Regions from separate parts of the Homo sapiens genome. Here all the other regions are linked to region 1. The links come from fine-mapping of genetic effects on gene expression. A gene starts in region 1. Each other region holds a variant in brackets. All regions are shown on one strand. Distances are from middle to middle. Region 1 holds the start of EML4 (EMAP like 4). Region 2 overlaps EML4 (EMAP like 4). Region 3 has its middle 54 kb from the start of PKDCC.

Region 1 (8,630 bases):
CTGGTACTTAGGCTTAATAATAAACATCTCTACATACAGTACATACTTTATTTATTTATTTATTTTTTAGAGGCAGAGGTTTGCTCTGTGGCCCAGTGGAGTGCAGTGGTACAATCATAGCTCACTGCAACCTTCAACTCCTGTGCTCAAGTGATCCTCCTGCCTCAGCCTCCCAAGTAGCTGGGGTTACAGGCACATGCCACTATGCCTATTTTTGTTTTTTTTGCAGAGACAGGGTCTTGCTATGTTGCCCAGGCTGGTCTCAAACTACTGGGCTCAATCGATCCTTCCACCTCAGCCTCCCAAAGTGCTGGGACTACAGGCGTGAGCCACTGCACCTAGTCATGGTACTTATTTAAAAACCAGGCAGTAAGCTCCTAAAGGGCAAAAAGCATGTCTTTTACTTGTCTTTCCCATAAGAACCACCAAGCATAGTGCTAGCCCATGTTCGATGTTAATCCATACATATGTTGAAAAACACTCTAGCTAACTCATGTTGAAGATGCTCTACTAACCATTTAAGAGTTACTACTCATGTCTGGTTACACAACTTGAGTCTATCTTGAACTCTTCAAGAGGCAACCAATAAAAAAAGTTTAAAAAAAAAACCTCTCCAAATATTACATGAAAAACATTTTCATGTAAATAAGGAATGCTTTAGATTAATATGTGAAAATCATATACAGCATTGTTCCTTTAAGAAAGCAAGACTATTATCTGTGATGAGAAATCACAGTTCTAACAATGTGATGTTAAAAAGACTAATTTCTGAATAGTCCATAAGTTGAAGCATACTGCTATACTTGTTCACATTTACAACCTGTACCCAGAATGTTGTTTCTTATAGATCCTAATCCAACAATTTCATTCACTATGATTTTTCTTAGGGGGAAGAAGATTTTAAGTTTTGTTGTTTAACTTTTGAGGCAGAAAAATTTAAAGCTGACTGGTTAGGTATAAGGTTTCTTTCAAGTGAAAACAGACTAATCTCTAGGTTAATTCCAAGATAAAAGTCTTAAAATTAAACCTCTATTATGAAAGAGATTCTAAAAAGATTAAGCATGAAATGCACCCAATCCCTGCCTTATAAAAAATCGGTAAAAGCTGTATGAATAGCTTCCCACTTTTGCACATAGACCTGAGATTTAATATACATACAGTATATACATTTTGCACATGGGTATCTATATGTAGTGATTTAGAGGCAACACATCAAGGTAATTGAGTACTTTTCTCTCCTAAGTTTAAAAAAAAAAAGGTTTCTAAAGTGCTGCCTTAAGTTACCATAATTTGTGGATTAAAAGATATATTAATAATACCTAAGGGAAATTCCAGAGTACAAGCACCTGCCAGCCAAGTTGCCTGAAATTCATCAGCTGCGGAGATTAAAAGAATTCTTCACTTGTTTTTTATGTAAAACAAAGATAACATAATCAGTACCATGTAACTTCAATGTGGCATTTATAAAATGGCCAATCACTTATCATTCCTATGATTTAAAAAACCACTACCTAGTCTTAATTGCCATTAGACATCTTATAAAATGCACATAACACAGTGGATTTCTTATCTAAACATGCAACAATCAAGGGTACAGTTTGAATTTTAAGTTTTCACTTCACAAAATGAGTCACCATAGGATTCTCTGAAATAATCTCTTCTCTAAAATTATTCTGTTTATAAAGTACTCAATTTTTCTGCTTATAAAAATGTAGTTTTTTCACCATTTTTCAAGAATCTATCTAATATGTAAAAGGAAATACACACATACTTCCTTGAGAATAAATGCTTTCAATAGTTGTAACCCCAGAAGAACTTCACGTTTTGACTTCTTGTTTAAAAAAAAAAAAAGTTTTTAAACACCTACTAGAGTAGAAGTGCTTGCCTTTATATTCATGGCTCTCCTGATGGTAAAATAAAGATCAATGTAACTCTAAGCTCTAGGCTAATTAACTGCAGAGAACAGAAACAAGCAATTTGGCAAGAGCTGAGCAAAGCTCCGCTTAAAGACTACCAGTAAAATATACCAGCACTACTCCTCCCCCACCCCTTTAAGGTTTCAATTAAGATGGGGCCTAGTTTTACTCTTGCAAGGGGGACAGAAAGAGAAAGCACAGAGCTCCCACTGAGAAGTATCTTCATCAAGAACAGCTCCAGAAATACTGCCAGGAACCATTTCCTTCCCTCTCTGCAGATGCAGGTTCCTCTGATAGGCATATCTCCTCTGCTCCTGATTAACACCATATCTAAAGGAAAGTCTCATCACATACCACCCAAAGCATGGCATCAAATGAATTTTTTAAATCCAACATTAGGGTCAACAATGACGCTCTTTATGAAAAGTGTGAGCCCCAACTGCAATTCATCTTCATCTCTCGGTCTTTTGTATCACTTGCCTCATAAACTGGTTAAGAAAGAAGAAAGCTATTACAAAGCATAATCAATGTTTGAAAATAAACATTAAGTGCCCCAACTGGTGAGAAAGACTCCTCCTAAACACTTACAGAAGATGAAGCTTTAACAAGCCCTCCAGAAATCTTTAGAGCCAACACGAAAGAAGTTAAAGTGATCTCACCACTCCTACAGGATGAGGACCCAATACAGTATAAAGATAGCACAGCTCTCCACAACATCCCCTAAGAAGACACTCAATTTTTACTTTAGTATAAGATCAGCCCTTCAGCGGACATATAGGACAAGTTTTTCGGTCCAACACTTACTGTGAATAAACCAACGCATGGAGCTAAAAAAGAACCAGGGAAAAATGGATGTCTCTCTAAAAAGAGCCCAACCTAAGTAAGGAATTACAAGACATCAAAGGTTAGATAATGGACAACAGGTGCCTTTGAGGAGGAAAGAGTAACACAACACTCAGTTGCCTCCTATTTTAGGATTTCCACTCTGAAAGCAATATAACGACAATTTTTTCTGCCCAAGAAAAAGGGAAGGCCAAAATTATAGGTTTTACTATTTAATATCTATAATAGGCCCATTGCTCTTTGACTTACTTTTTTACTTTAGATTTTAAAAATCCATCTCATCTCGATATTATCTGGATATAGTACGGCCTATGGCCAGACTGCTCACTGATCAGTGAACATTAACCAAGTAGAGACTTATTATCAAGAAATGTAAAAGAAAGGCGTCTGAATACAAGCTACCTGCACATAAAAAACTCAAAATACAGTTCCAGCAGTAGGTATCACACAACTGCGTTATCAGCCAAAGCTGAAACTGTTTCTCTCACCATTCTAACAGTTGAACTTAATCTTTTACTAGATTTCAATGGCCTCGAAGAATAGTAATTCCAGATTCAGCTTCTAGGGCAGCGAATACTAGCCTGGAGTTTTGATTTTCCTAGCCAGAAGATTACCTTCATCTGGTGAAAGGAACACTGAAAAGGCACTTCAGCCTATTTAATAACCTCTTCCCTTTCTCCATTCCACAAAGACAACATCTTCCAAAAATGGAGAATCCTTTCCTTCCCTGATAGAGGCCCCCTTTCCTATTGATTCATTGGGCAGAATCACTTCTCCCCAGCATGTATGCAGAACCAGAAAACACTTCTGCTTTCACTCTTAAAGAGGGTCCCCCAACACAGATGCACCTCTTCCTTTCCTGCATTAAGCAAATGATGCTCCGATGCTTCTAGGTCTCTCCACCACTGCAAAATGCTCAGAGAAGTGGAGGGATTGAAAAGGAAGTTGCCTACTACTCTGAAGGATACTGGAAAGTCGCCTTCAAATCTAAAGTGAAGACTTGGGGGCGGGGGATGCCCCCTTCCTGAAGAGGGAATGAGGGTCCCTCCCCTAAAAAGGAGCCTCTGTTCGGGTGAAGGCGATCCCCACCCTGAAAGAGAGGCGTGTATGTGGAAAGGTGGTGGAAGGTTGTACCCTGAAGAGGAGCCTGGATTTGAAGAAATGTCCCAACTCTGAAGGGGGGTAAGTGGAGGGAGCCGTGAGTGTACGGGGAGGGGTGTGCCAGCTATCGGGGGGCCTGAGAAGGAAGGGGTTCCCACTTTGGGGGAACGAGGGCCCCGCACTGAAAGGGGCTCCGGGAGGAAAGGAGGGTCTGACACAGAGGAGAGTTGGACATGGGGGAGGGGCCCTCAGTCCACCGGAGTCCGCGGAGGGGCGGCAGCCTCGAAGGGAACATGTGCAGTGGAGCCGCTGCCACCCCGAGGGGCAGGCGGGAGGGCAGGGCCTGGGCTGTGTGCGGAAGGAAAAAAGTTCCTACCCTTCGCAGAAGACGCAGGACTCCCCAGCCGTACTCACCGAGACTGCCGGCGAAACCGTCCATCTTGCGGGGAAAGCGCCGGGCTCCGGGCTTAGAGGGGCGGGCACTTCATTCAGCGGACCGACAGAGTGGCCGACGCTGAGCCTGACCCGCTCGTTCTCTAGGTCGCCCGGCTCGGCTACCGGCTCCCGCCTCCGTCGTCCGTCCGTTCGCCCTGGGGTAGTAAGCCGCGGCCGCCCGAACCACTTCCCCGTCACGTTGAGAGCCGCGCCGCTCAGCCGCCTGCCCGGCCTCCCTCCCAGGCAGCAGCCGCGAGCGCCGCGCCGCGCCGCGCCCCGCCCCGCCCCCGCGCCCGCGCGCAGCAGTAGCCCCGCCCCGCGCACGCCGTCACACTTCCGACTCCGCCTCCCACGTGACGCCACGGAGGCGGGGTCTTGCCAGCCCCGCCCTCTCACCTTGCCTCGGCCTCGGCGTTTGTCCGCCTCGCGCCAGGCTGGTGGTTGCGCCTGCGCGGTAGGCCTGCTGAAGGCTGGGGACCACGGTTTGGAAGCTGGTTCCAAACAGGTGGGGATAAGGCATAGACTCTGGCCTGCGATACTCTGATGCATGAAGGATCCTCTCCCTATGTGGCCCCTGGGAAGCCCGCAGAGCCAAGACTGGACCCCCGTGACGGGAGATGACCACCACGTGGGTCCTACAAGGACACTAAAGAAGCAACCAAGAGGGAGAGGTTCTCCCTCTCCCCCAATAGGGTGGGGGACAAATAGGGGCGAAGCTTCTTGACTAGCTCGATACCACCACTGCCACAGCCGCAGGGCCCGGGACAGATCAGAAGCAAGGAATTTTAGTGCTGGACATGACCCAAAAGTTCATCTTGTCTAACCCTTCTTATGAAGAAAAACACAGAGCCTTAGAGAGGACAACCTGCCCAAGGTCATCGAACCTAGTAGAAGCAAAAACTCAGCCTTCCTTACTCTCCCTAGCGTTCTGTCGTCTAGGGGTGCAAAACGACCATATATGGCAGGCTATAGGATGGCCTGCTAGGGAACCATAATAAGGGTTATTTCAAATGAAGTAACACTGAGTTCTAGGCCCAACTCCGTATGACTCAAGAGTGTCAAATCACCTAATTTATTTAGGCGTCACTTTATTCATTTGCAAATTGGTTGTCTGGACATGTAACCAAAACATGTAAATATACATAGCGTTCATATTCTTCCTCCCTTCCCCAACACGATTTCCCATACTTCTAAAGACTTTCTCATGGTTTGTCAAGTCCCTCCTGGGGCTCAGTTGTGCAGATTAGAGTAAGAGAGAGAAGAGCTGTAAGGTACTGAAGAACTGAATTGATCTATACATAATAAATTGATAAATACATAATAAAAAGCTGAGTTAGGGGAAAACAGAGTCCTACTACACAGAGTTGCAGGAGAGAGGGACAAACAAGAAGGGAGACAAGAAATATGTAATGATGAGAGAGACTTAGAGGAATTAAATGATTGAAAGGATTGTTAAACCTTCTTGGGGTATACGTCTCCCTTTGTTGCCTCTTTAAAAATCTTCCCTAAAAATGTAAATTACTTTGCATTTCTTATTTGGATATAAGACCTGTTTCTGAATACCATACTATATGGAGACTGGCCATAACGCAGCCAAGATAAATTCAGGTTACAGACTAAACGGTGTCTAAAATTTCCTTCTCTTCAAACTTAAATGATTTACCCAATGTTCCTTCTGCTATGGGCATTTTCATATGCATAAGTTTCTATTAAGCCTAAGTAAATGTTTGAGAAGTTCTCAATTCTGACAGCTGTTCCTTTGTGTCTTCAGGCCACACTCTCTGCCTTAGGTCGATTAAAAGAATAAGAACTTGGCATATTGGTATACATATGTTTTATGGTCCAGACCTGGAAGTGTGTACCTCCCTTTTGTCCACATTCCACTGGCCAGAACTTGGTCACATGACTGCAAGGGAGGCTAGGAATGTAGTCTGTGTATCCAGAAGGAAAAGAGACATATTTTGGTAACAGCTCTCTGGTTTCTGCCACACTCCCCTTCGTGGCATTCATCAGAGTTAAAATTTTTCATTTGCTTGAATGATTTATTCAATAAGCATCTCATTCATTATACTGTATACTACAAGGAAAGCTGTTAAAATGTAGGAGAGTTAGTACATCCCAGCAGTTAAGAGTGCAGACTCTGGAATCATGCTGCCCAGATTCACATCCCAACTCATCATGTACTAGCTATGAAACACTGGACAAATTACCTAACCTCTCTGTGCCTCCATTTTATTGACTGCAAAATGGAGATGATAACACTTCTACTTCTTAGAGTTTTTGAGAGGATGCTATGAGGTAATATATGTAAAGCACTTAAAACAGGGCACAATATGTTATAAGTGCTCAGTAGGTATTAGCTGCTCTTATTTTGTACCTGTTTTTGCTCTCTATTATATACTTAGTGCATATTACAGAACAGCTTTTTGATAAATATTTATTGAATAATGAACAAACATAGAAGAATTCTGAAAACTAGTCAATCTGAATACATTGTTTCAACAACCAGTGCCTGAGTGTTTTAAAGCAGCCAGAATTTTTGTTTTATATTTATCAAAGTACATCTTGCAATCTAAGCCTCTAATACTACTATGATAAAATAAAATTTAACATACATCTTTCAAAAGTGAAACCATAGCTGAACATTATCAAACACACACACAAATACTAAGGTTCTAAACAGTTACGAATTACTGGAGGGTTATTTTGGTTATTCACCTTAACAAAGGATTTATCTTTAGATTATTTTCAATGTGGAGTTCCATTGCCCCTTTGAGCTCCTTAAGTATAACTTAATTCAGGCAAATGCAAAATATGTGCCGTTTTTCAGGATCCCAGTTATTGGAAAAGGCTAAATATAGCTGTATCAAATAATGAAAACTTAGAACATTCCCTTTATGGTTTTGGTTTTTGAAACAGGGTCTCACTCTGTTGCCCAGGCTGGAGTGCAGTGGCACGATCTCAGCTCACGGCAACCTCCGCTTCCCCGGGTTCAAGCAATTAGCATGCCTCAGCCTCCCAAGTAGCTGGGATTACAGTTGTGCACCACCATGCCCAGCTAATTTTTGTATTTTTAGTAGAGACAGGGTTTGGCCATGTTGCCCAGGCTGGTCTCGAACTCCTCACCTCAAGTGATTCGCCTAGCCTTGGCCTCCTGAAGTGCTGGGATTACAGGCTTCAGCCACCATGCCTGGCCAGAACATTCTCTTTATACATCGAATCTTGACTCTGCATACTTACCTTCCCCTCTATGTCAAGGTTAGTATGTTGTGGGAGGAGTTTCAGAATACTTGTGAAGATACATTGTCAAAGTCTTGACCTAACGTTTGAAGAAAAATAAGATTCCTATTCAATTTCTTTGTTTTACTCTCACTAGCTAGATGATCTTGAAAAGTAACTATAAACTGTTTTTGTCTGCTTGCTTTTCTCTCCCGCAGACATTTTAAAATAAATGCCAAGGAAAATTAAGGGTTTTTTTTAAGTATGCTGTGTCTTCAGTTCCTTTTATTTCATTATTTGAATGTTATTTAAAAAATGAAACCCTATAGTCATGGAACTATATAGATTGTATAAACCTGTAGTCCATGTAAGCACAAATTTGATAGAAAAAAATCAGAGTTAATACCTGAGTGGGGGAAAAAAGGGATTCTTCATTTTTATAATATGTTTAATGTAAGCAGTGTGTAAAAGAATTCCAAAATCTATAAGAAGCTAAATGGCAATGTTATTCTAGCTTCTAACCATAAAGAATGCCTAGGGAGAACTTCAAAATTATTGCAAGAGAAATAAAAGGAGTTTGAGAGGAGATACCCCAAAGTGTCAAAAGTAGCTGCCTCTGAGAAATGAAATTAAGTGGAAGAAGGAAAGGGTAGAGGAGAGATATGGGGGATTTCACTTTTATTTTATTTTAATCATAGAAGTATTCATTTTTTGAAAACATTAAAATGCAAAAACAAAAAATATATTTCACTGCATATTTAGACACTCATAAACTGTGTCTGTAGAGACTGGTTTAAAATATCATACTTATTTAATAACTGTTTTACCAATCTTGGCATGATGGTTATCTCTCTCGTAAGACTTTCCAGACTTGCTGACTTCAGGAAAGAATCAAGCAATTAGTAGTGCTGTAAATTCTTGGTGAGAACTTATGAGACTGAAATCTATCCTGTGGGGATCACAAGCCATACCTCACTTGGAGGACCTGCTGCATAGATGCATGAGTGAGTGAACGAATGCCTATTGAGGTTAATTTTGGCATTTCTCATGGTGCCATCCATGACCTACAGAAAGAAGACAACTAGCCTTGCCTGCAGAGCTAAGTTTTCCCAATGC
Region 2 (8,630 bases), 120 kb before region 1:
CTATCACTTTGAATCTTTTTAAATGCCTGTCAGAGGGAGAAGTCCATTTCTGGCTCATATAAACCCAGCTTCAATGCATTTTACATTCTTCTCTTACAACGTACAGCTTGATCTACACAGAGATCAACCCTTGTACTGTAAAGAGTTATAATGCAATTATAGCAATTATAAATGCTATTGAATTTTCTAAAATAATCCTACAAACACAATTAAGACCAAAAAACTTAACATAAGCCCTTCAGTTACATCAGTCGTATTCCTACTGAATTTTTCCTCTAGATTTCTAAAGCTTTAAAGATGGAATGAAATTACATGTTTTATTAAAGAAGAAAACCAAGAAGTGTGTTCAGTCTTAATTATGAGATCACACATCCATCTACTCTGGCATTTCAGGACTATAGTAATGTCTGAAATATTGAAATTGCTTCAAGTTGCTTGACTATTTTATCTTGTATAACTATAGTGTTAATATCTTAACGATTATGACAAATCACTAAATTTGCTGAATTTGGCTAGTAGATCTGCTTTTGCGACTTACGAATAGATAGTTCTAATACCAATATAGTTCCAAATACCTGCAAAACAAGTAACGTACTCTAAAACACAATACTCGGTTTTTTAAAAATTTACCTTTATTTCTGCTCCTTTTGCTTTCTTCTGCCAGTCCCATACAGTAAGCATATGCTCATTGGAGTCATCAATAATACATAAATGAACACCTGAATCCTAAAGAAAAGTCAATCAGAGGCATTTTAAAATTCACTGATAGGGCTAACATTCTAAGAAAGAAATACCATCTTATTAAAACTGCAAATAGTAAGATAACCCAAAATCCTTTAAACTCATCGCTCTCTGAAACATAATGAATACACTATTTACTACAATTGTATTTTCCTCAAAAATATAAAGATTCTTTTACAAAATATTCTATTTAAATCCCCTCATCCCTCCAGGTTATTTCCACTTGCCATCTAGTCACTCCTATTATTCAGAGATAGTGACTAATTTTGAGGCTATCCTAGTCCCTTCTGCATCTTATGCTTCCTTCTTGCTGCCTGTATTAAGCTATTTTTCCTTGTGGTAGGTAAGAAGAAATGTACACAATTTCATAACTTTGTTCCTCACTAAATTTTGACAGTTTGACAGAATAAGCTAAAATTCATGGCTATTTTAGAGTTTGCTGATTTCAGTTTTCTGTGAGATACCTGACTTACATTAACTTGAATAAACAACCTAAGTAAAATTATAATGAAATTCCTTTTTTATAATGAAATTTCCTGTTTTTCTGAAACCATTCTCATTCACGTATTTTAAGTATTCCAGTTTAAGAAAAATACCTATAGATGATATTAAATGCTTTTTAAAAATAGTATCATTTGTGAAATATGCTTTACAATGTTATGGAACAGAGAAACATTGTAGTGAAGAGTGAGAGGCACTGAGGAAGGGCAGAGCTTACTCTCTTCTCCTCTTTATCTCTTAGCCTAAATTGGAATATTATCTGAATTAGAAAAGATAGAGTTATGAGGCAATTCAAGATGGTCTTAACACCGTAACAATGGTTATCAACAACCTGACAACAGTTCCTGCTATAGAGATTTATGGGAGAAAATAAAGTAGCAAAAGTATTGCCTTTATGACCTCTTATCTCCTTTTCTAAATGTCCTTCTCCCAATTCCTGACTTGTTGGACCCTTGACATTCAGTGCCTTCAAGCTAGCAAAGTTCCTAAATTCACTAAAATTTATCTTTCTGCTCTAAAAGTGTCCTTTCCTCCATGTCCCACAAAACTCCCATAATCCAGAATACAGTTGCCAATGGCTAAGAACTGAAGAGATAATATGAATATATAACTGAGGTCACATAAAATCTACAGGGGTATTTATCTTTGAAACTAAAAAAGTATGTATCCTAAAATATAGAAGGTTGACTGTATACTTTATAATCATAATTACATACAATTCAAGAAAAAACCAGAATGTTTAAATGAGTAAGATCTTGTCTTATTTTACCCTTAGAATAAAGCCTCAACACTTAGAAAGGACTGCTGGGGAAAATTTTAAACCCATGTTGTCATCAATTCAAAACCAAGATAATTCAGGACTTCAGGAAATACAAAGGTCTGATTGTTTCTGCTGCTCAAATATGACATCAAGAAAAGCCAATATTTGTACAGAACTGGCCAAGTTTGCTGTGAATTTTTAAAATAAAATAGATCTTTTCTATGATTCAAGGTAAGGCAAAAATGCATCCTATTGCTTGTCTGAAATTGTACTATGCTTTGTATATATTCCTCTAACCACTTCCTGCTACTACATGGGAGCTCTACCTCAAGGCAGCATAATTCCAAGAATAATTAAAGTAAAATATCTTGCATCCTAACTAAACCAAAGTACTTTAGGACTTAGGTCAAAATGCTAGCCATTTAGCAATAGCTAATATGTTAGCAATAGCTAGCATCTCATTTTTCAACTCAGGATTATCACTTCATGGCCACATAAACACAAAACTGAGCTTAACTTCTTTCCTGCTTTTTTGTTCAGCTTGCTTACTTCTCTAAAAATTGTTACTTACTGCTTTTGAAAAATCCAGGCATCCTACTCCACGCTCAAAAGTGCCAAGTCCAATAATCTGCAGTGTGGATAGAGTAACAGAATCCCACACTCTGACGTGGGGTTGTAGAGGCTGCAAAAACACAAGACAGCAGAGCAACTGGACAGGTGGATGCAAATAAACACCAATAGCACACAGAACTAATGCCATTTAAAAAAGTAATAGGGATGGATAAGCTTCTAATAAATTACTAGATTTAGACATGCCTCCAAATGAATCTTAAGTAGGTATTTTCTTATACTGTGAAAATAAGAAAATAGCAGCAAATAACTTGTGTATTTACTATGTTACACATACTATTCTAAGTATTACACATATTAATTCATTTAATCCTATGCACTACAGGTACACTATTATAATTATCATTTAACAGATGAAGAAATTGGAATACAGAGATTTAAATAACTTGCCCAAAGTGATACCGCTATTAAAAGGTTGAGTCGGCCAGGCACGGGGGCCCACACCGGTAATCCTAGCACTTTGGGAGGCCGAGGCGGGCGGATCATGAGGTCAGGAGATTAAGACCATCCTGGCTAACAAGAGTGAAAACCCATCTCTATTAAAAATATAAAAAATTAGCCAGGCATGGTAGTACGCGCCTGTAGTCACAGCTACTCAGGAGGCTGAGGCAGGTGAATTGCTTGAACCTGGGAGACACAGGTTGCAGTGAGCCAATATTGTGCCACTGCACTCCAGCCTGGGAGACAGAGCAAGACTCCGTCTCAAAAAAAAAAAGAAAAAAAGAAAAAAAAAAGGTGGAGTCAGGATTCTAATCCAGGCAAATCTGCTCCGGATACTTTTGCTTTTAGTATTACTAATCTTCATTCCTGAGAAAATAACACATTTTATCAATGTCCAATAAACTGCTAAACAGCCCTTAAATAGCATTTGAAACTGGAAGGGGTCTTAGAAGTTATCCAGTAGAAACCTTCTACTCCTTTTCTTTAAAGAAACTGAAGCCTGAGAATGTCATGAGTATAGTCATACATACGTTACTCAGTCACCATTAATAGTCACTGTTGATCCTTAGAAATAAGGTATTTGTTATACAAACCAACTGAATAATATTAAATAGTAACTGTAACTCTTTAAGTTGTATCAGTTCTAGTCACACATAAAATCAAGAGTTAGCCGGGCATGGTGGCACACACCTGTAGTCCAGCTACTCACTCAAGAGGCCAAGGCTGGAGGATCACTTGAGCCCAGGAGTTTGAGCCCAGCCTGGGCAACGAAGTGAGATTCCACCCCTATAATTAATTAATTAATTAATTAAGAAAGTAAATAAGAATCAACAGGTTCATCAACTAAGGGAAACTGCAGTACCTTCCCGCAGACACTGGTTACTTTATATGTTATTTTATATAAAGAAAATGTAACGAGCGTATCAGTTTTCCCATTTTTACAGTAAATAGCTTCTTAAGGGAGAACACTTATTTTTTAAAAACAAAATTTATTAGTATGACTCTGTCTTTTAAAGTGTTCTTATATCCTAATGTTTTTTCCATGCTTATACTAGAAATTCCTCAGTACTTAAATTTTAAAAGAATAAAACAAATGAGTTGTGGTTAAAATTACAATAGATTCCACTCTAACAGCAATGTCTCTAGGTACAGAAGGCATAACACTATGCCACTCACCCTTCCATCTTTATCCACGCCAGCTATCTGTCCAGTTGCAATCCTAATTTTGTCAGGATGTATAGCAAGGCTAAAAAGCAGTATTAAGAATGATTTTAAACACAGGAAACATGAAACAACAGAATACCTTTGTACTGACATTTTTCAAATAAGCAGTTTTTAATCGTTAAAAAACATACGTTTATCTGTTTTCTTCAGCAAATCAAACAATCATCAAATATCTGAAGATTTCTGAATTTTCAGCTGTACTTTTTACTTGTTAAGCTGCACAGATTAATGAAACACTAAGTTCAAAGAAAATATTTATAACTGTGGCATGCTAACGAACTGTTTTCATTTGCTGAAGTTCCTTTCTAGTCCACGCACAATGGCATACAAATCACACGACTTTATTATAGTGAAGATGCAATATTGTGCTGTTTAATTTTAATCTATTAAAGTACAAGCATTTTTTCCTTTTGCTACATAATCCTCATACATGCTGACTTGACAACTCTTCCATCTTTTAGGCCATTTCTTACTTTTCAACA[A/C]AAGAAAACAGCAATGAGCATCTTCACACATAGTGCTTTCAATCTTTTAATTAGTTCTTAGCGCTAAATTCTTGTAAGTCAAACTGAGGCAAGGAATTTTTAAATAGAAATGGGAAGTAGCGTAGCATATGTGCCTAAATTACTCACAGCACGTATATGAGTGACTAGCAAATTTCTGAAAAAGACATCTTTATGTCCATATCTAGACTCTTTCAACAACGGTTGTACACTGTGAACATTCTCTTGCTCTTAAATATTTGTACTTAAGAACACATCAGAGGGATATTTACATATTAATACATAAAGTGCTTCCTCATTCTTTACAGCTACATGGTGACCTATAGGTACACTACAACCTCACCAGTAGTCCCCAACTGAAAAATACTTAGGCTGTTTCTAATCTTCATCACAAACAATGCTGCAGTAAATAGTTTTGTACATACATTATTCTGCAAGTGTAAAAGGCAATATTTTAATCAACTCCAAAAGTTCAATATCTATATAATATTATAATAGTCATCTATTAATTTTTTTCTGGATAAAGATACAGGTGCCAGCATAGTACAGACATAAAAGCTTTTAAATGTTGGAAAACATCCAGTCAGTCCTTGGATCTAAGTGGGGAAAAGGGTAATAAATAAAAAATAAAAGTTGGAAAATATTAATAAACAATAAATAATTGCATTTAACTAAAAAGTAACAAAATAATTTAAAAGCATTTAAAAGGAGTTCTCACATTTGTAGTATGACATCCTACGGCATACTTATGATCCTTATTCAGCTAGATTTCTTTCTTCCCAAAAGAATAAAGCTTCAAGTATAAAATTTATCTACATAGGACAAATCCTCAATAAATATCGAGTAACCAATAATCACTTTCAGAAACCTGAAAATGTCCAGTCTGTCCCATATATGTTTCACACTACAGACCAGAGAAGAGAAGGACTGTACGACATGAGAAAGCAGAAGAGGTTCCAATCATGATTTATGGAGGATGTGTTTTGTTGCTGCTGATACCACACCACCATTTTGGAGGCCGAAAGTCCTTTTTTTCTTTTTAAAATATATTCAACAGATGACCCATAATATTTTTACATTCTGAGCTTTCCACAAGAAATCACTTTCAATAAAACCCAAATTTAAAAAATACAAAATGAGGGCCTGAAAGAACAAAAATGAACCAATGTTAAATGATACCAACCATTTCACACAGTCTGTATGGCCCAGGTAGTGTCGCTGAGTTCTCTCCTCATAATTAAATAGTACTACTACTGATGCAATGAAATAAACTATTTTCCCGGTCGGAAGAAGGTAAACATTAGCTCTACAGTCCTTTCCTCGATAACCATATCTTAACAGAAAAAGAGTCAAGGTTTTAAATAAACACAGTTTTCAAGTTGTTAACAGATTTTTCATGGATACTTAAGGAATTAGGAAGGTACAATGAAGAAGACTGAACTAGAACTAGAAAACTCATGTCCTGGACGGGCAGAGTGCTCACACGTGTAATCCTAGCCCTTCAGGAGGCCAAGGTGGGAGGATCACTTCAGTCCAGGAGTTTGAGAGTAGTGCGGGCAATAGTGAGACCCCATCTCGACAGAAAATAAAAAAAATTAGCCAGGCATGGTGGCCTGTGCCTGTAGTTCCAGCTACTTGGGAGTCTGAGGTGGGAGAATCACTTGAGCCCAGGAGGTCAGGTCAAGGCTACAGTGAGCAGTGATCGTGCCACTGCACTCCAGCCTGGGCCACAGAGACCCTGTTGCCGCCCACCCCCACCCCTCCACCAAAAAAAAGGAAAACTCATATCCTGCCATTATCCCTAGCGTAACCTGACTCTTTCAGTATGTTAAGATCTTAGTTTCCTCATTTACCAGACAAATATGTATTGAAATCCTAATGTGTATCAGGCATAATGGTGAACATTCAGTTCTGAACAAAAAAAATGTAGGCCCTATGTCTCTAGAGCTTATCCTCTGGCAAAGAAAAAAAAAAATCACCAAATATAAAATTACAAATCGTGGGGGGGTAAAAAAAAGACTGCTAGGAGAAAGCCCAAATGGAGGACCTAATTTAGATGGAGAGAAAAAGAGAGAGAAGGGAGGGACCAAAAGAAGGCCTATCTGGAAAAGGGATATTTATGCTGGACCTAAATGATAAATAAGTAATAGCAAGGAACAGTTTGGTAGGCAGAATGTTTGTTAAAAATATGTTGTACAGAATGAAAGGATTGGTGAGTGTGTCCAAGCTGATATCTGCCTAAGAAGGGAATAATTCAAGGGACGTGGGAGGAAGTGCAGGAGAATGGAGGCAGACAACAGAGTTCAAACTACCAACTCCTTCTGTTTCACTGAGTTTCTTGGAGGTTCTAAAAGAAGTGAAAATTTCTAGGTGAAATTAGGAAAGCTCTCCTTTAACAGTCATTTAAAAAAAAGTCTGGCTGAAAAGTTAATTCTGAATTAGAATCAGCCTTGTTAATTTGAGGTTACAAAATGCTTAACTGATGTTTTCTTATTTAATTCCTACAACAGCCCCTGTGAGGTATGGGTTATTAATTAACCCCTTTTATAAGTAAAGAAAGTTAAGGTTCACGGAGAGTAAGTGGCAGGGCCAAAACTCAAACACTAGTCTTCCAGTTCCAGTCTAGTGCCTTTTCTAGCAAGTACTTGCCATGATGTTCAAAAAATATTGTTTATCCTTTCCAAAGATATAAACTTTGATGGCTTTAAATTGCTAACAGCAAAGAATTAGAGATAATGTCTCCTTTTTTTTTTTTTTTCTTTTGAGACAGAGTTTTCCCCGGTCGCCCAGGCTGGAGTCCAATGGCGTGATCTTGGCTCACTGCAACCTCCGCCTCCCGGGTTCAAGTGATTCTCCTGCCTCAGCCTCCCGAGTAGCTGGGATTACAGGCATGCACCACCACACCTGGCTAATTTTTTGTATCTTTAGTAGAGATGGGGTTTCACAATGTTGACTAGGCTGGTCTTGAACTACTGACTTTGTGATCCGCCTGCCTCGGCCTCCCAAAGTGCTAGGATTACCAGCGTGAACCACCGCGCCTGGCCTGATGTTTCCTTTTTAATTTTTTAAGTAGCTGTTACTTTTTTTTTTTGTATAAAGACAATTTTGACAGAGAATACGTTAACTGATTTGTTAACTAGAGACAAAGCAAATGAATTTGCTGTCATGGTAGAGAAGGATACGCCCACTCCAGTTTGAGCTTCTCAGGAGGCAGTTCCGTTCTGATGTCATCATAGTTGTCAACATCGGAAGGAATGAACATGGTAATTGGCCGACCGCGCATAAACATTTTAATATATTCTCCTTCTGTTGAAACACAAGACAAAAGTTAAGTCATACGTATTTTCTGTATAGTCATACAAAAGTGGATTATTAACGTGATACAATAAAAACAAGACAAAAATGACTACTTCAAAGTTTTAGTCTCATTATATACAATTGTTTTTGTTATATAGTTGTCCTGTATCCACGGGGGACTGATTTTAGGAACACCTTCCTCAGATACCCAAATCCATGGATGCTCAATTTCCTGATACAAAATGGCATAGTATTCACATATAACCTGTATATTTTGAATCATCTCTAGATTACTCATAATATGATGTGAATGCTATGTAAATAGTTGTTGTATTGTTTAGAAAATAATGACAAAAGTCTGCATATATTCAGTATAACAGACAATTTTTTTCCCCAAATATTTTCAACCCATGGTTGGCTGAATCTGTGGATGTAGAACCCATGGATACAGAGGGCCAACTACATTACACAGCATACAGAAAACAAAGTGATACTATAAAGTCCTAGTCTAAAACATTGTAGGGAAAAATAAACCA
Region 3 (8,315 bases), 67 kb after region 1:
GGCACGATGAGATGAGCTTCTTTGGATGCAAGGCAGATGATGGTGGCGAGGCGGTGAGTGTTGGGGTCGAGGAGAAGTTTCAGGGGCTCCTTCTTCCCACCAGATGGTGAAGGAGAAGGTTAGGAGAGTGTCTCTGAGTGATCCCAGCTGCAGGGGCCTCTCCTCCTCCTCTCCTATTCTCTCATCTTTCATCTTTTCCAAAGCTGCACCCAGCGGTTGTGACAATTCTGACTCTGCTACATTATTCACTGGCTTTAAAAGAGATTGAATAGATTTTTTGCTCTCTGATTACTGAATTTCCTGTTTCTCTGAAAGCCTGAAATGTACTTGATCACATCCACCCTCCTCCCCACCCCAGAGGGCACATCCGGGGCTCTGTTGACACATTTGTCACATGGGCGACTTTCAAAAACAGTCGGAGTTCAAATATCCACAGAGCTGAATGCCTCCCCACCCCCCAGAGAGGCATTTGGGGATGGTTGAGGCTGTCCCAAGGGCTATCAGATAGATCCTTTTAAGTAAGGCCTTTTCATTCATTCCCACATTTCCATATAAAACCTTCCCTCACTCTGCCTCCTCTCTGCCTGCCCATTAAACTGCTTTGGCGGGAGGAGCCTCCAAATTGGGGGAAGACAATTTTTGCTCACGTGGTCTGTGTTTCAGAGAACACAGCTGCTCACCATCTTGGTGAATGAGATCGTGCTTCCATCCTGGCTGCTCAAACCCAAGTTTATCACTGGTGCCTCCTCTTCACTCAGCTTCTCCTCTGGACGTAGCTTTGTCCTGATCAAAAGCCAGATCCATTCCTTTGGACTCGCTTATAGCCTAAGTCGGCAGCCATCTAATCACCTCCAGACTTTGCCTCTGACTATCACCCAAGGCACTGCCAAAGAAGAGTTGCAGGGAAGGGGGCCCAGGATGCTAAGAAAAGCTTGGTGTTTGCTGAATTAAGTGAGAGGATGAGCTCTTGGGAAACAGGTGATGTTTCTGTCACACACCCTAGTTTCATAACAGCTGTTTAAACACCAACTTCTCGTCTTGTGGTTTTATAGAACTGTAGAAATCTTTTCTGCTGTGCTCTGGCCATGGCCTGACGCTGTCTGGCGGAGCAATGCTTTCTCTCCGTAATTTACCTCAATTAATTTCCCTTAACCAGCTCTCAGAATAAGATCTCCATGCTGCGATGTGACTAGTTAGATTCAATAGTTACCTGTTTAGGGAATATTTGCATTTTGGTGTGAGAGGAGGGGTGGGCCAAGCAGTTGGTGAGAGAAAGAGACAGGATGGGATGGTGGAGCCTGTGGTAGACTGCAGAATACAGGTCAGTGTGGCCAGATTTTTAGTTTTGGGGAAACTGTTTACAAATCCAGATATTTCGGTATAATCTTCCAATTTAAAATTTTTGGTAATTAATTCGTTTTTAAAAAAACGCTAGGTGTACCAGATAAAATACATATTTGAGTCACCTTGGACCATGGACCAAGGTGAGGTAGCAGTGACATGCATAAATGGAAGCACACTTTTGGATTAAATGTGTTTGGTGTTAAGCACAATGGTTCTTTTATGGTTGATTTTTGGCAAAAATGCCAGTGGCGCTGCCCTGTGGTCCTGAAATCATACTGGAAAGGCTGGCCCAGGACTGACTCTGGCCTTGGTGACTTGCATCTAGTTCATTTGGAATCCGGTTCCTATGGATAGTTTCTTCCTCAGTATAGGTTGCCTGGGTCCCTCAGGAAAGCCATCGAATTCAATGTGAATGCAATCACTCAGGTCGACTAAAGGCAGGTGAGTGTAACAGGAAGGTCTTCCTCACTGTGAAGGATGGCTGAAGACTGCAATAGAGTCCTTTCCATCTCTGATCAGAGAGACTGGCAGAGTTTATTGTACAGCACAGGTTTAACACATGACCTCTGGAATCAGATCCGTGGGTTCAAACTTCTCCCCTATTAGCTGGGTGTCCTCGGGCAAGTTAATTAGTCTCTCTAAACTCAGATTTTTAATCTGTAAAACGGGGAGTTAATAGTTCCTTCTAAGTAGTATTCAGTGAGATGGCGCTTGCAAAGTGCTTCCGTAGCAGTTCCTAAAGTGTAAGCTTCTACATCAGAAATGGGGTGTGACTTCATGTTTAGAAGACTCACTCACTATGTTTTAAATTTTGCTGGGGCTCAGAAAATGATAAGTCAAAGTATAATGCCTTGGCGTGCTGAGTACTTTGAACTAAAGGAGATTGGAAGGCCTTAGAAGCAGTCTCAGAAGTAAAATCTCTCTCTGAACTTCTCTTGCCCTATTTCCCACCCCTTCTTCTCCCTGAATTCATAGAAACTAGAATTCCTCTTCCCTATGGCAGGTCATAATAACTAGAATCCCTTTCCCCCAAAGCAAGCCATAAAATCTAGAACTGTTACTCTAAGTTCCCCCTGCCTTTCTGTGTAGGCACTGGCCATGAAGAGATTCTCTGATCTACCTCTGACTGTGAGTTATAAGACCCGTGCTCCAGAAAGCCCCTGCCCCACACCCAGGAGGAAGGAATGCTGCTCAGAGAGGCCAAGAAGAATCTGAACAGACAGGCCTTGCTGGGTTTCTCCCCTCAGTCTGTTACCATTAGATCGCATCCTTTTGTCTATTTTTATGCTTAGGTTCAACGAAGAATGGACAGTGTGTATTTCTACCTAGGCATAAAAATAGACAGTTTTCCCTGGGTCACTGGGTTTTCATTTCTGAAGGCTCCTGTGTCCCATAAAACTTTGATTCGGTAAATTTGCTATGCTTTTCTCTTGTTAATCAGTCTTTTGCTATAGCAATGACCCTTATGAAGGGTGAGGAAAGGTATCTCACATCTTTTCTACCCCGCCCCCCCCCCACAATAGGGATTTATTGAACTGCACCACACCAAGTCCCAGACCCAGGAGACTGGGCTCAGAAAGTCCCACTGAGTTCCTAGGTACCAGCCTTCTGGTAGAGCAGCTTTCTTTTCTAGTGTGGCTCTATCTCTTCTTTGCATATGCCTTCAGCTTCTTCTTTCCCCTCTTTTAGGTCTACTCTGCCTCCAGCCTGTGTTTTAATCACATAAAAAATGCTATTAAAAATGTAGAATCAAGGGCTGGACAGAGTGGCTCAAACCTGTAATCCCAGCATGTTTGGAGGCTGAGGTGGGCAGATCGCTTGAGCCCAGGAGTTCGAGACCAGCCTGGGCAACATAGTGAAACCCCGTCTCAAAAAAAAAAACAAAAACAAAAACAAACAAACAAACAAACACAAAATTAGCCAGGCGGGCATGGTGGCACAGCGCCTGTAGTCCCAACTACTAGGGAGGCTGAGATGGGAGGATCGCTTGAACCTGGGAGGTCAAAGCTGCAGTGAGCCATGATCACGCCACTGCACTCCAGCCTGGGTGACAGAGCAAGACTGTTTCAAAAAGAAAAAGTTTAGAATCAAATTTTAGATTGTAAACTCTGATTGAGGTTGTTGCCTTCCAACTATGCTTATTCATCTAGAAAGAGAAGTCAGCATTTCTTGAAGTCTGGTCGCAGTATGGGGTCCCTGAGAGAAGGCCTCTCTAAAAATACCAGGGGGAGGGAGGGAGAGGTATGCGATTGAGAGTTAGGGAGGTGGTTCCAGAGAAGAGGGCAAGCCCTCAGGTTGGGCCGCCAGAGGCTCCCAGGAGAAGAAAGAAAGGGAAGCCAGGCCTGCATCCTGGTGGAGCCCGCTCCTCCCACCGCGGGGAGATCCGCCCTCAGCGCTGTGGTGGCCGGAAGTGCTGGTCTAGGGCGGGTGGGGGCGAGGGGCTGCCTGGGAGGTCAGTCTCCCGGCTGGGCTGGGATATTTATAGCACCTGGGTTTCTGGGTCTGCCTCCACCTGGATTTATTTATGCGGCCTGTGGCTGTGGCGCCTGTGGAGAATGAGGCGGGGTGGGGTGGGGGGGGGCGCGGATCTCGCTGCAAGGGTCTAGTTCTTGGCCTTGGGACTCTAGCTGGACTGGAAACGACAAATCACAACCAGGGGCTGTCTGGGGGAACACAGGCAGAGCAGCACTTGGTGCTGCGCCTGCAAAGCCGCCGATGGTTGGGCCTGTTGAAACTCGGGGCTTTCCAGATTCACGCGGTGTCGCCTTTGCGGCCGCCGTGGGCGTGGGTTAGGCAGGTGTGGGCGACGGGGAAGCGATCCCCTCCCCCGCAAGTCACCCCGGGCTCCGGTTCTCACGCCTTCCTCCGCAGCTCCTGGGAAGAATTAAAGGCGGAACAATGTTCCGTCTCCGGAGGGATCTGTACTTGGAAAGAGAACTCAGAGAGCACGTGGTGGCCGGCCCCATCTGCAGACCCAAAACTAGAGAGTCCACGTTTGCGAACCCATCTGCACTTTCGACTTTCCCTGATCACTACGTGTCTGGCTGCTCTCAGACTGCGATGACATCATTTAAAAAAAATGTAAATAACTGTCCTTTGGGTCTTTCAAGAACCTAGTGATTGAGGAGAGGGCAACGGTGAATCTCGAGGAAGGCTGTGTCGTGGGACCTTCAGGCATTGTTTAATCTGTGCAGGGCGCAGTCTTGGGCAGGCCCCAGCCCTCTCCTCTGCCCACTCGCAAAGCCCGGCCTGCTTGCTCCACCGGCAACTGGGCTGGAGGAGAGGCGAGGGGCAGGGTGGGTGCTAAGATCCTGTGCGAAAAGCCAGGACCCTCGTGGTACCTAGGGAAATGAAAATCGCGTTGACAGTAGTCCAACGCTTTCCTTTTCTCATTCACCCCTCGGGCAGCACAACGAGACAGGCACTCCTGCCAACGTCCCCATTTCACAGATGGAGAAACTGAGGCTTAGGCAAAGCAATTTGCCCCAGGGTGACGGAGCAAGCGTCAACTTCAGTTTCCAGCTCGGACGC[G/C]AGGGGCCGTCGGGGGCGTTCCGGGGAGGGGGTGCCTGGGCCGGGGGCGGCCACGCGGGGCTGGGAGAGGTTCCAGCAGCGGCGCGTGGTGTAGCCGGCGTCCGGCGGGACTGCACGGGCCTGGAGCCGCTGGAAAGGCCGGTCTGGTGGCCCGGGACGAGGGGGCGGCCTTCCCGGAATCCCGAGCAGCACGGCGGAGCCGGGGCAGCTGCCAGGCGCGGCTGGGGACCGGCTCGCGCTGCGGTTGGCGGCGGGCAGGCCACATACCGCGCAGCGTGGAGGAAATGGCTGGGATTCCTCCTGCGGCGCCGCGCGGGCCTCGGGGAGGGCGGGGCTCCCCCAGTGTGTCGGGGCGGGGGCGGGGCGCGGCGGAGGGTGAGCGGGGATCCTGGCGCTGGCGGGGGCGCCCCGACCTGAGTCCTCGTCCCTGGAGCGCTCCCGCCACTTTGCCAGCATCTGGGCCTCCAGAGCCCCGTGAACCCTCGAGAAGGGGAGCACGTGAAGGGGCTCCCCGGCCACGCCCAGCCTCCTGCCCAGTCTCTGCCTCAGGCCTAAGGGTTCAAGAGGGGCCTGAGTCACCCACCTGCAGAGCGGCCCTGCAGCCCCTGCTGATCCGAATCAGGCCCTGCCTTCTGGGGTGGCGCACGACACGCGTGGGGCCCAGCGAAGAGGATGCTGAGGACCTGGACGCTGCTCCGGACAGTGAGGCCTCCGCAGGTCCCAGTTTCAGCTTTGGAAAGTCCTGGCCACTGACGTCCTCAGTGTTCTAGGCCCAGCCTCAGGCCTTTCTGCTGCAGGCATGGTGGGCCAGGCGGAGTCGGCTTCTAGGGGATGAGGCTTGCCCTGAGAGAGAGGCCGGCCCCTTGTGAGATTGTTGGCTGCATTGTGGTGGGTGAAGTTTAGAGGCAGAGCCGGGAGGGTGGCACTGAGGTCAGTCTTGACCTGGGCCTGAGTGAGGAGGCCGCTTTACACTATACTGGGGAGTGGAGGCATGAGAAGATGGAAAACCTGGGGGTTGGGTTAGCTTGAGAAAGCTCCCAGCTTCCCCCGGACACAAGCAAAAACATGATTTGGCTGGGGAAGTGGAAGAGGGGAAGGTGAATTGAGGGTCTTAGATTGGGTCCCCTATAACATCTGCTAGGAAGGTGGCCCCTGGCACTTGGAACAGGGACTGATTGATGGATCCATGATCTCTTTCCTCCATCAGTCTCCACTAGGATGTCAGATCCAGTCAAGAGTGGCGTTTGAGAGGCGTTACCATCTGCCCTGCACCCCTAAACCCTTCCCGCTGCAGACTGCTGTACTGACACCCTCCTGCCCTTCTCTGGTTTCCAGCTCCAATGGCGTCTATTCTCTATGAATTATTCCTTGATCCCCGCAACTTCTACTCCTTCCATCTGCTTCCACGGCCACGTGATCGCACTTTTCACACTGGATCATGAATATTTGCTTGTGAACTTATCTCCCCAGCTTGACAATAGCTCTATAAGGGCAGAGATTGGCTAAATCTTTTATTAACTTTGTGGACCTACTGTCTTAGGCCAGTTTCCCGTTGCTATAAGGAAATACCCGAGACTAAGCAATTTATAAAGAAGAGAGGTTTAATTGGCTCATGTTTCTGCAGGCTTTACAGGAAGCATGGTGCTGTCATCTGCTCAGCTTCTGGTGAAGCCTCAGGGAGCTTTCAATCATGGTGGAGGGCAAAGGAGGAAGCTGTCATCTCACATGGCCAGAGGAGGAGCAAGAGAGAGCATGGGGGGAGAGGTGCCACATACTTTTAAATGACCAGATCTCGTGAGAACTCACTATGGTGAGGAGAGCACCAAGCCATGCAGGACCCACCCCCATGACCAAGACACCTTCCCACCTCCAACAATGGGGATTACGATTCATTATGAGATTTAGAGGGGATACACATCCAAACCTGCTGTCTAGAATTGTGCTTGCCTTACAGTAAATGCACCACCTGTTTGTTGAATGAATGAGAGAAAGAGGAAGGAATTGGGTGGGGACAGTATAAATGAAAGCAGAGACCAGAGGAAACACAGGCCAGATGTGAAACTTGCTAGAAAGCTCTCATCTTTGCTTCCTGCATACACAGAGAACTTGCTACCCAGACCCTGCCCTGCCCTTTCTTACCTGCCATTCCGAGGTGGGCCCAGTCCAGAGGGTCTAGCACCACCGCTTCCCCAAGACCACTCTGAACTGCACACCTTGATACTAACTTCAATGCCAACCCCCACTCTCTCTCTCTTACCCTGGCTTGAGGCTCTGAGTTTGGCTTAGTTGCTTTGCACCTGTTTCTGTAGCCCACCATCCCCCCACCTCTGCTCCCCATGCTGGTGTACCTCATTTCTCAGCTTAGGGCTCCACAAGGTGGATGGATCCATGATCTCTACATGAAGTGGTGTTGTCCAGCCATTTCAAATAAAACCAGGGCTTGGGAGGTATGCCCTGGCCCAAGGCTGGGGGCAAGCATGGTGGTGGCTTTGTCTGCCTGCCTCCAGGGTAGGATGGCTTCAAGCTCGGAAGCAGAACAGAGATGGAGTTTCCCAACTTAGCCCACATCACCTGAGCCCGAGTGGCCTGCTGAAGTTTCCACCACTTCAGGGACTTCCAAGTAGCCTGATCTAGGCCTGGGGAGGGGCTCCCTTCAGAGCAAGTCCTCTGCCAGGCCCTGGGAGGAAATAGGAGACCCGAGCCAGGTCTGTCCTGATGCACTTGCCCCTCCTCAGACCGGCCTGATGGGCGTCTGTGGGACTCAGGAGCGTCAGGGAATGAGATGTCACTTCCAACATTGCCTCTGGACACTCCTCCACAAGGAGCAGGCCTAGGAGGCCCTGGCAGACCTTTCACACAGACACAGGCAGACAGAAACGCAGCCAACTCACAGTGACAGCATTGGTTCCGGGAATTTTGAAAGTCAAAACCCCAATATTTTTTCACAAGAAAAAGGAACAGATTTTGGCATCTTTGCTTCAGAAACAGGAACTGACCAAGACAGTGACCTCTGATCATCACTTCCTCATTGCACTGCTCAGAAGCGGGTGGGCTCCCTCAGCCCTTTGACTTTCCCCTCAGGGTTCTGGGGGCAGAAGCCCCAGGGCTTTAAGGAACAGCAGAGGAAAGAAGAGAAGGGGAAGGAAAGGCATGGCAGAGGAGAGGGAAGGGAAGGAGAGAGATTTTCTAGGTGGTCAGTCCTTGAGGATTGAGGAGGCCAGGAGCCTGGTGGGGGTGGGGGGAGTTAGGGCCAGGAGGTACTTGGCACCTGGTAGGTCTCAGTGTGGCCTTATTTTTATCTTGTCATGGAAAGAGCATCAGTGTGTGGACCCTTTGAAGCTCACGGTTCATTGCTCCTGTGTCTTGTAGCATTGAAGTACAGCTGTCCACATTCACAGCAGACTTAGCTGTAGCACCTCTGAAAGTTGTTTTTGTTTTTT

The links. PIP is the estimated chance that this variant, and not a neighbour inherited with it, causes the effect.
Region 2: its variant is the best candidate, but not a certain one, in a credible set for the expression of EML4 in sun-exposed skin (GTEx, PIP 0.85).
Region 3: its variant is the best candidate, but not a certain one, in a credible set for the expression of EML4 in whole blood (TOPMed, PIP 0.75).

The regions. Positions count from the first base shown.
Region 1 is chr2:42,165,281-42,173,910 of GRCh38, reverse strand. EML4 (EMAP like 4) reads right to left here and starts at 4,558. Exons shown (of 23, transcript NM_019063.5): 1 at 4,275-4,558. The coding sequence starts at 4,299. EML4-AS1 (EML4 antisense RNA 1) reads left to right here and starts at 3,680. Exons shown (of 4, transcript NR_110584.1): 1 at 3,680-3,941. RefSeq lists silencers at 4,547-4,606, 4,707-4,756 and enhancers at 4,172-4,824, 4,837-4,976.
Region 2 is chr2:42,280,323-42,288,952 of GRCh38, reverse strand. It overlaps EML4 (EMAP like 4), which reads right to left. Exons shown (of 23, transcript NM_019063.5): 7 at 7,980-8,103; 8 at 5,981-6,130; 9 at 4,250-4,319; 10 at 2,574-2,684; 11 at 631-726. Among named protein-coding and RNA genes, the nearest start is that of COX7A2L, 77 kb to the left of the region's middle. The variant A/C (reference allele first, on the strand shown) is at 4,780.
Region 3 is chr2:42,098,241-42,106,555 of GRCh38, reverse strand. No RefSeq gene overlaps it. Among named protein-coding and RNA genes, the nearest start is that of PKDCC, 54 kb to the right of the region's middle. RefSeq lists enhancers at 178-227, 3,982-4,501, 4,426-5,253, 5,472-5,551, 7,025-7,084 and 1 more and silencers at 4,912-5,291, 6,815-6,904. The variant G/C (reference allele first, on the strand shown) is at 4,876.